2 linked regions of the Homo sapiens genome follow. The protein of the gene in region 1 purifies or fractionates together with the protein of each later gene. This does not show direct contact. Each region holds a gene or a part of one and is shown in the gene's direction. Other genes may lie near its edges.

Region 1 (3,828 bases):
AGCCTAATCAATTCCATGTGTCCAGAAAAAAAAAAAAGGATTTTATGGTGCTGTAGAACTGAGAGTCATATTCAGGAATAATTCATCTCTTGTTGTAGAAGGCAGGGATCATAGTCTTATTCTTATGTACCCAGTGCTTGGCACATGGTTGAAAACTCATTATTGAATTATAGAGATGGCAACTCCAGACCTATAGTGAGAACAACTAGACATTTTATGGCTCTACTCTTAGAATTATTCTGACATCAAAAGAGTAGTTCTGCCATTTCTTTAACTCAGCAGAAATCATTCATTAAGTGATGAAAATAGAAGCTTCTAAACAAACCAGAGCCTTAAAAGGCAAATAAAAGGTATATGCATCTGTTAGAAAAAAAATGGGAGAGCTATGTGGTGTGTTTGAGGACAAAGACAATCTGTTTCATTATTTTTATTTGTAAATAATTTTTAATTTTATTTTGTAGACCTTATTGCAATATGCAAGCAACAAGAATGCATCAGAACATATTGTGTATCTTCTGGAGGTATATCGACTTGCCATCCAAAGCTTTGCCAGTGCACGTCCATACTTAACTACTGAATGTGAAGATGTCCTCTTAGTGCTTGGCAGATTAGTACTGTAAGTTTGAGAACTTAAATCACTCTTAAAATTGAGTACCATTGGTCGTGTTGTTTGCCTGGTTTCTCTTTACAGTGGCATCACATTTATTCTTCAGAGCACCATTAGAGTCATACCATTGAATGAAATTTCCTTCCTACTCACGTTCCCAGGAGATATAGTCCAAGTGAAGCTCCAGCCAAGCAACATCATCTTTAACTTGCCTCTAGAGTCTCTTTTCCTATTCAGGCTTGGAATCTGAGAATGATATATTTCTATCCCTTAGGTATAGATTGATTTAAATGACAGAATACCTGGAAACTGGTAGTCCTTGAAGAACATCTTGGCAAAAACAACATGAAATTCTGCAATTTGATTATATTTGAACTAAGAATAATTTTATTAGCAAAAAATATCAGGGTACAGTATAAGATTACCATCCTAAGAAAGAGATCATGATTTAGCGCGGGCATGGTGGCGCACGCCTGTAATCCCAGCACTTTGGGAAGAGGCTGAGGCACGAGAATCGCTTGAACCTGGGAGGTGGAGGTTGCAGTGAGCCAAGATGGCGCCACTGCACTCCAGCCTGGGTGGTGGAGTGGAGACTGTCTCAACAACAAAAAAAAAAGAACGTGATTTAGCTGTTATTTTAATATTTAGCTGCATAGTAGCAGACAAAATTACACCTTTATTGTAATTTTCATCTGCAAATTGAAAAGATACAACAGCCAATCAGTTTTAGCTGGGCATCACCTTGTTCAACTTACAGATTGTTTAGTGAGATGACTTCTAGTCTAGATGGTTTATTTTATTTTTTTTCTAGCCTCACCTGTTTTCCTTCCTATTTTCCAGTGGCCCTTTATGGAAGACCAGCATTCCTGGTTTTATGATCATATTTTTCCTTCTACCAAGTCCTAGTTTCTGTTTTACCTATTGTAATCCCTAAGGGGTAAAGGATTATTCTGTAGGGTTTTAGAGAGATGTTGATTCATTGGTATTTTGAGTTGCTCATTATTCAAGTTGTAGTGCATTTCTTTTTTCAAAAAAATCTTCCTGTTATTTCTTTTCTGTGTCTTCTGGATAATAGTCAGAAAAAGGAAACTCTTTTGCTTGGTTTTTTTTACAGGTAAAGAAACGACTTTGCCAGTCTTCCTGCTTCCTCTGCAAGTGACAGAAACCTATAGATAACAGTTACATATATTTATCATTTATCATTTTATCAGCTGAATTGACAGTAGTATGAGCTCCCATTTTTGTCTACTGGAATTAGAATTGTCCTATATGGGTGCCTCTTCACACCCAAATAAACAAAATAAAACTGCTTGGAATGTGATTTCTAAAGAGCTTATTATATTCTTACCAAATGTACTAAAGCAACAATGTAAATATAAAGCCTTGTGGTCTTTCTTTTTTTCCTCCTTTTTAAATTGAACAGTCAATATAACAACTCTGAAGCAAATTTTGAAGAGTAAAAACATTTAAAATAGCCTAAACAAATGTAAAATAGATTTTTAGTATTGCTGTCATACTCTACTTAATTATTACTATAACCACCTTTATATACTTACTCATTTTTATTGTAGGAGTTGTTTCGAATTACTGCTTTCAGTGTCTGAAAGTGAACTGCCATGTGAAGTCTGGCTACCATTCCTTCAGTCTCTACAGGTGAGTTGATTTTAACTCAGAAAAGTTTTCTGTATCCAAGACACCTAATTAATTACTCCCAGCAAACTAAAATTGGAACCTTAGAACAAAAACAAGTTTATTATATATTGATATTAGGTCATGAAATGATAAAAAGGCCCTTCACATGAAGGGGATGTATTAAAAATGGGTTTTTTAAATTTGGTTTTGTTTGCCTCTACATAGTTAGAAATCAACAAAAAAGTTTCATTATTCAAACATAAAGTTTAGACAGCATAAAGCTATCAAAATCATACATGATTATAAAGTAACAGTATTTGGATCCTTCATAGCATACTTATTGGTAACCTTCAATATACAAAACACTATTTCATTACATCTAAGGTTCACCTTTTTCTTCCTAACACTTTAAGAATTGTACCTGGCTGGGTGTAGTAGCTCACGGCTGTAATCCCAACACTTTGTGAGGCCAAGGCAAGTGGATCACCTGAGGTCAGGAGTTCGAGACCAGCTTGGCCAACATGCCGAAACCCTGTCTCTACTAAAAATACAAATATTAGCCGGGCATGGTGGCGGACACCTGTAATCCCAGTTACTTGGGAGGCTCAGGCAGGATAATCGCTTGAACCCAGAAGGCAGAGGTTGCAGTGAGCCAAGATCGCACCACTGCACTCCAGCCTGAGCAACAGAGTGAGACTCTGTCTCGGAAAAAAAAAAAAAAGACATAATAAATAATAGACCGGGCATGGTGGTACATACCTATAGTCCCAGCTACTCAGGAGGCTGAGGCAAGAGAATCTCTTAAGCCCAAGAGTCCGAGGCTGCAGTGAGATATGATCACACCACTGCACTCCAGCCTGGGTGACAGGGCTCATCCCTAAAATAATAGGACTCGTCTCTAAAAATAAATGCATGCAGTCATTCATTTATTGATCACTAATTATGTACCAATCACTGCTTTACACTACATTTTACTTGTTTTATATCTTCTAATCAAATTACAAACCTTATAGTGTGAGAATTATTTGAATCTCCATTTACAAATGGGGAGACAGGTGAAGAGAGGTTAATTAGCTTGGACAAAGTTACACACAGATTTCAAACCCTGAGCTTACTTTGCTAACTACTTCCTTGAGGACACAGCTTAGACCTGTTTCATGGAGGCACAAATAAAGACATGCATATTAACAGACACACTTCATTATCTGAACATTTCTTTCCTCTGGAATACATAACCCAAAATGAAATGATATAATGTTCTCTTTAGTGAGAAGAGGATTCTTTGTCATGTTCTTGGCCTATTTAAAGCCCTGTAATGCAGTCCTAATATCTCACATATCCGTACAGCTGCTAAAATCATCTTTCATGCGTAGCACTTTGATTTTTGTCACTCTGTGTTCTGAAGCCTGCCAGTCGTTTTGTTCTGGCATATGGCATCCTAGAAGGGCAAATCCTAATTAGGACTATTACTACTATATTAATACTGTTTGAGTATCCCATATCTCAAATGCTTAGGAGTAGTTTGGATTTTGGAATATTTGCATTACACTTAGTAGTTCAGCATCCCTAATCTGAAAATCCGAAATGCT
Region 2 (3,828 bases), on another chromosome or scaffold:
TTTATAGAGACTACTTCATATTTGTGGAGTACATGTGATATTTTGTTACAAGCATACAATATGTAATAAACCCAGGGATATCCATCACTTCCAATTTTATCATTTCTTCATTTCTTCTTCTTTTTCTTTTTTTGTGAGATGGGGTCTCACTCTGTCACCCCAGAGTGCTAGGTCTTGCAGTCAAAGCTCACTGCAACCTCAAACTCCTAGGCTGAAGTGATCCTCCTGTGTTAGCCTCCTGAGTAGCCATATAGGTGTGTGCCACCATGCCCAGCTACATTTATCATTTCTTTGTGATGGGAACATTCAAAATATACTCTTCTAATTAGTTTGCAATATACAAGAAATTCTTGTTCATTGTCATCACACACAGCTCTTAGTGTCATATGGAACTAAAAGCTTCCATTGCCACTCTTAGGGTTGGGTAGGTCTTTTTGTCTTTTTCTCAACCTCAGTGGTACCCTTGCTTCCCTCATTGCATTAGGTGCATCCCACTGAATGGCGAACTCTTCTCTGCAGTGTTGATTCTTGTTAGAAGTTTGAGGTTTATATATACAGAAGCCTGATTTTCTCCAAAGCATGAGAACCTTTAATTCCTATCCCGTACTAACTCTGTAGCCTCTCAATTGGTCTTTTTCCCTTTGGTCTCATACCTGCCCCAATCCATCCCTGTAAGTTGGTTAATCTTCCACAGAGTATAGTTTCTTCCATATTAATTTTCTTTCTTTTTTCCTTTTTTTTTTTTTTTTTTGAGAAAGGGTCTCACTCCAACCCAGGCTGGAGTGCAGTGGCTCCATCACAGTTCACTACAGCCTCAACCTTCTGGGCTCAGGTGATCCTCCCACCTCAGCGTCTTGAGTAGCTGGGACTTACAGGCATGCACTACCATGCTCAGATAATTTTTTTTTTTTGTAGGGATGGGATTTTTTCCATTTTGCCCAGGCTGGTCATGGGCTCCTGGGCTTAAGTGATCTGCCTACTCTAGCCTCTTAAAGTGCAATGATTATAGCTGAGCACCCCCTCTGCACCTGGCCCCATGTTTGTTTTCTACAGTGACTATTCGGTATTCCTTGTTAGTTCCCAGAATACCCTGTTCCTTCCTCTCAGTTTACCTTCTTTTTTCAAGTGTCTGATCACCACAGCCGTTACTTTCTTTGAATTGTGTACTATTCATCTATTTTGCCTTTTTTTTTTTTTTTTTTGAGACAGAGTCTTGCTCTGTCACCTGTCACCCAGGCTAGAGTGCAGTGGCAAGATCTTGGCTCACTGCAACCTCCACCTCCCAGGTTCACGCAATTCTCCTGCCTCAGCCTCCCAAGTAGCTGTGATTACAGGTGCCGCCAACATGCCCAGCTAATTTTTGTATTTTTAGTAGAGATGGGCTTTCACCATGTTGTCCAGGCTGGTCTCAAACTCCTGACCTCAGTTGATCCACCCGCCTTGGCCTCCCAAAGTGCTGGATTACAGGCATGAGCCACCGTGCCTGGCCCTATTTTGCCTTTTATTGTATTTATTTGTGTTTGTATTATCTTCTTGAGAAGAAGGGGGTCTTTGTATTTATCATATCACCTAGCACATTACAAACTGCAGGTGATAGTCATTATTTGTTTTAATTATAAAAGGTCCTAAATAAAATCTCAGAAGAAGGTGTTCAAAAATCTTGAAGCAGTTGGAGTATTGTTGGAGTAAGATCTTTTCAAAGAAAAGCATCATTAAATGTGTAATTTTTAATTTTTTTTAAGCAGCATTTTTTAGGTTCAGTTCTTTAAATTATTGTACCTTATTGGCTTATAGCTTTTAGGTAGTAATAGAAATTATCTGAAAAAAATGCACATAAATTGCTCTATAATCTTGCTATTATTCCTCAAAATGATGTATAAGAAGCATTTTTCTTTACATAAAAGAGAATTAAGTTAACATACATAAGCAGTATCTCTTTTTTGTAGCAGAGTTTTATTATTTCAACCAGGTTCATGTATTTTATTATGTACCTACTAGGAAGGTATTTAATACAATTTGCTAAGAAGTATGGCAAGCTGGGGGTGAAGAATCAAACAAGTCTGGATTTGAATCCAACCTTCACTGTATACATGTGGAACTTTGAACAAATTACTTAATCTGACTCTCAGATTGCATTTCTTGAAAAGAAAGTTATTGTGACTTTTAGAAAAACTGTATTAAAGTGCTTAATAACAATTTGCACTTAAGAGATATTCAAGTAATGATAGCTATTAATTTCTAAGTTGTCATTATTAGGATTGGGGGAGTTCCTGACTGTAATTTTCACAATTTAGAAGGGGAAATAAATTTACCTAGGTTATTGTGATAAACAAATGACTATGAAAGTACGGAGGAGGTAAAGATGAAATCTTTAAACAAGAAATAAGGGAAGATTTTCTGTAAATTTCACTTAGGCTTTGAGGGATGATTTTTAAAATTTCCAAGGAAAAAGAAAGCTAGTATAAAAATTTGTTTCTTACACAGTAGGTACGACAGAGTACTGAATTTTAAAAAGGTCTGCTTGACTTCATTATAAATTTTACAGAAATTTATTGACACTAAATGATAATCATAGGACTAGTTAGACTATTATGTCTTCTGCCTACAGTTTTCCCCCTTTTTTCCAGTTCATCCTTTCTTTTGCTGTAGGCAAATCTGGTCAGGTCATTCTTTGGCCTAAAATCCTTTCCTAACATTGATAGAATGAACTTCAGATTTTCTGGAAAATATAACACCTTTCCATATCAGATTCCTAACTACTTTTCAACTCCTTCAACTCCTTTTATTCTCTTGAAAATTCTTCTATATCTTCACAGTTACTCTTTGCTTTGCCTGGAAGTGAAGCAGTAAGAGTCTTCTAACTGCAGTGAACTCCTAATTGTTAGCTGGCTTCTACCCCATCTGTCTTGCAGCTTTCCTTCATGCAACCACAAACTCTGTATGTGTCACTATTGACTTTTATCTTGTGTTAATTATTTATGAATATGTATTCATTGATTTAGCAAATATTTTTTGGGCATTCATTCTGTGCCATCCCCTTTCTCCCCCAAACACTCCCCCCAAGCAACCATAAACTCTAGGGCAGGCAGCTTGCCTTTGTTGTTGTATCATCGGCCTCTAGTCTAATGTCTTAAAATTTTTAAGGAAATTGTTCCTTTTATGTTTCTTAGAAAGTAAGGTTGTTACTTATGTGGAATCAAGATTATGAAGAAAATATGATTAGAGGAGGTTTTTGACCTCAGTTTTCTTGAGGTATAATTTATACACAATAAAATTCACCTATTTTTAGAGAATTGCTTAATGAGTTTTGATAATTATATACTGTCAGCTAATCAAGTAAGGGATTTTTTTAAAAAATTAGGTTTTAACATTATATTTTTACTATATTGTAATAAAAAACCTTTCTTAGATTTATTTCTATATTGCTATTACCTTTATGGAGAGCTAATAGGAAGAAGGGTAGTATTTTTTTTTCCTTTTTATGTGTGAGCTGTGAATTCACTTTTCCCTTCCTGTGATACACAAAACTATAAGTATGGAATTAAATACAGAGAAATCAAGCAGGTGGTAGAAATCCCTTTTTATAGATGAGAAACTCTAAAACAATTCAGGTAACCAAAAATTTAAAATGGTCAACATTATGATATGGTATAAGTTGTAGACAAATGCAGAGGCTATCAAAAGACCCTATACTATAAGATTTTCTCTCCTCTTATATTTAATAGATAAATAAACCATAAATAGCCTGCTTGTTTGAAGAGAAAGAATAAAGAGCTTTTAAATCTCGTTTAAAAATAACTTATTTTGGTTCACATGTTTTAGTAATCA

What was found.
Region 2: the proteins of RLF (region 1) and ZNF280D purify together in Homo sapiens (affinity purification with mass spectrometry, with the first as the bait; one large-scale study listed by BioGRID). This does not show direct contact.

What each region holds. Positions count from the first base shown.
Region 1 is NC_000001.11:40,188,594-40,192,421, forward strand, and holds part of RLF (zinc finger protein Rlf), read left to right. Parts: intron 1-461; coding exon 462-616; intron 617-2,178; coding exon 2,179-2,260; intron 2,261-3,828. UniProt on the Homo sapiens protein: May be involved in transcriptional regulation.
Region 2 is NC_000015.10:56,660,205-56,664,032, reverse strand, and holds part of ZNF280D (zinc finger protein 280D), read left to right. Parts: intron 1-3,828. UniProt on the Homo sapiens protein: May function as a transcription factor.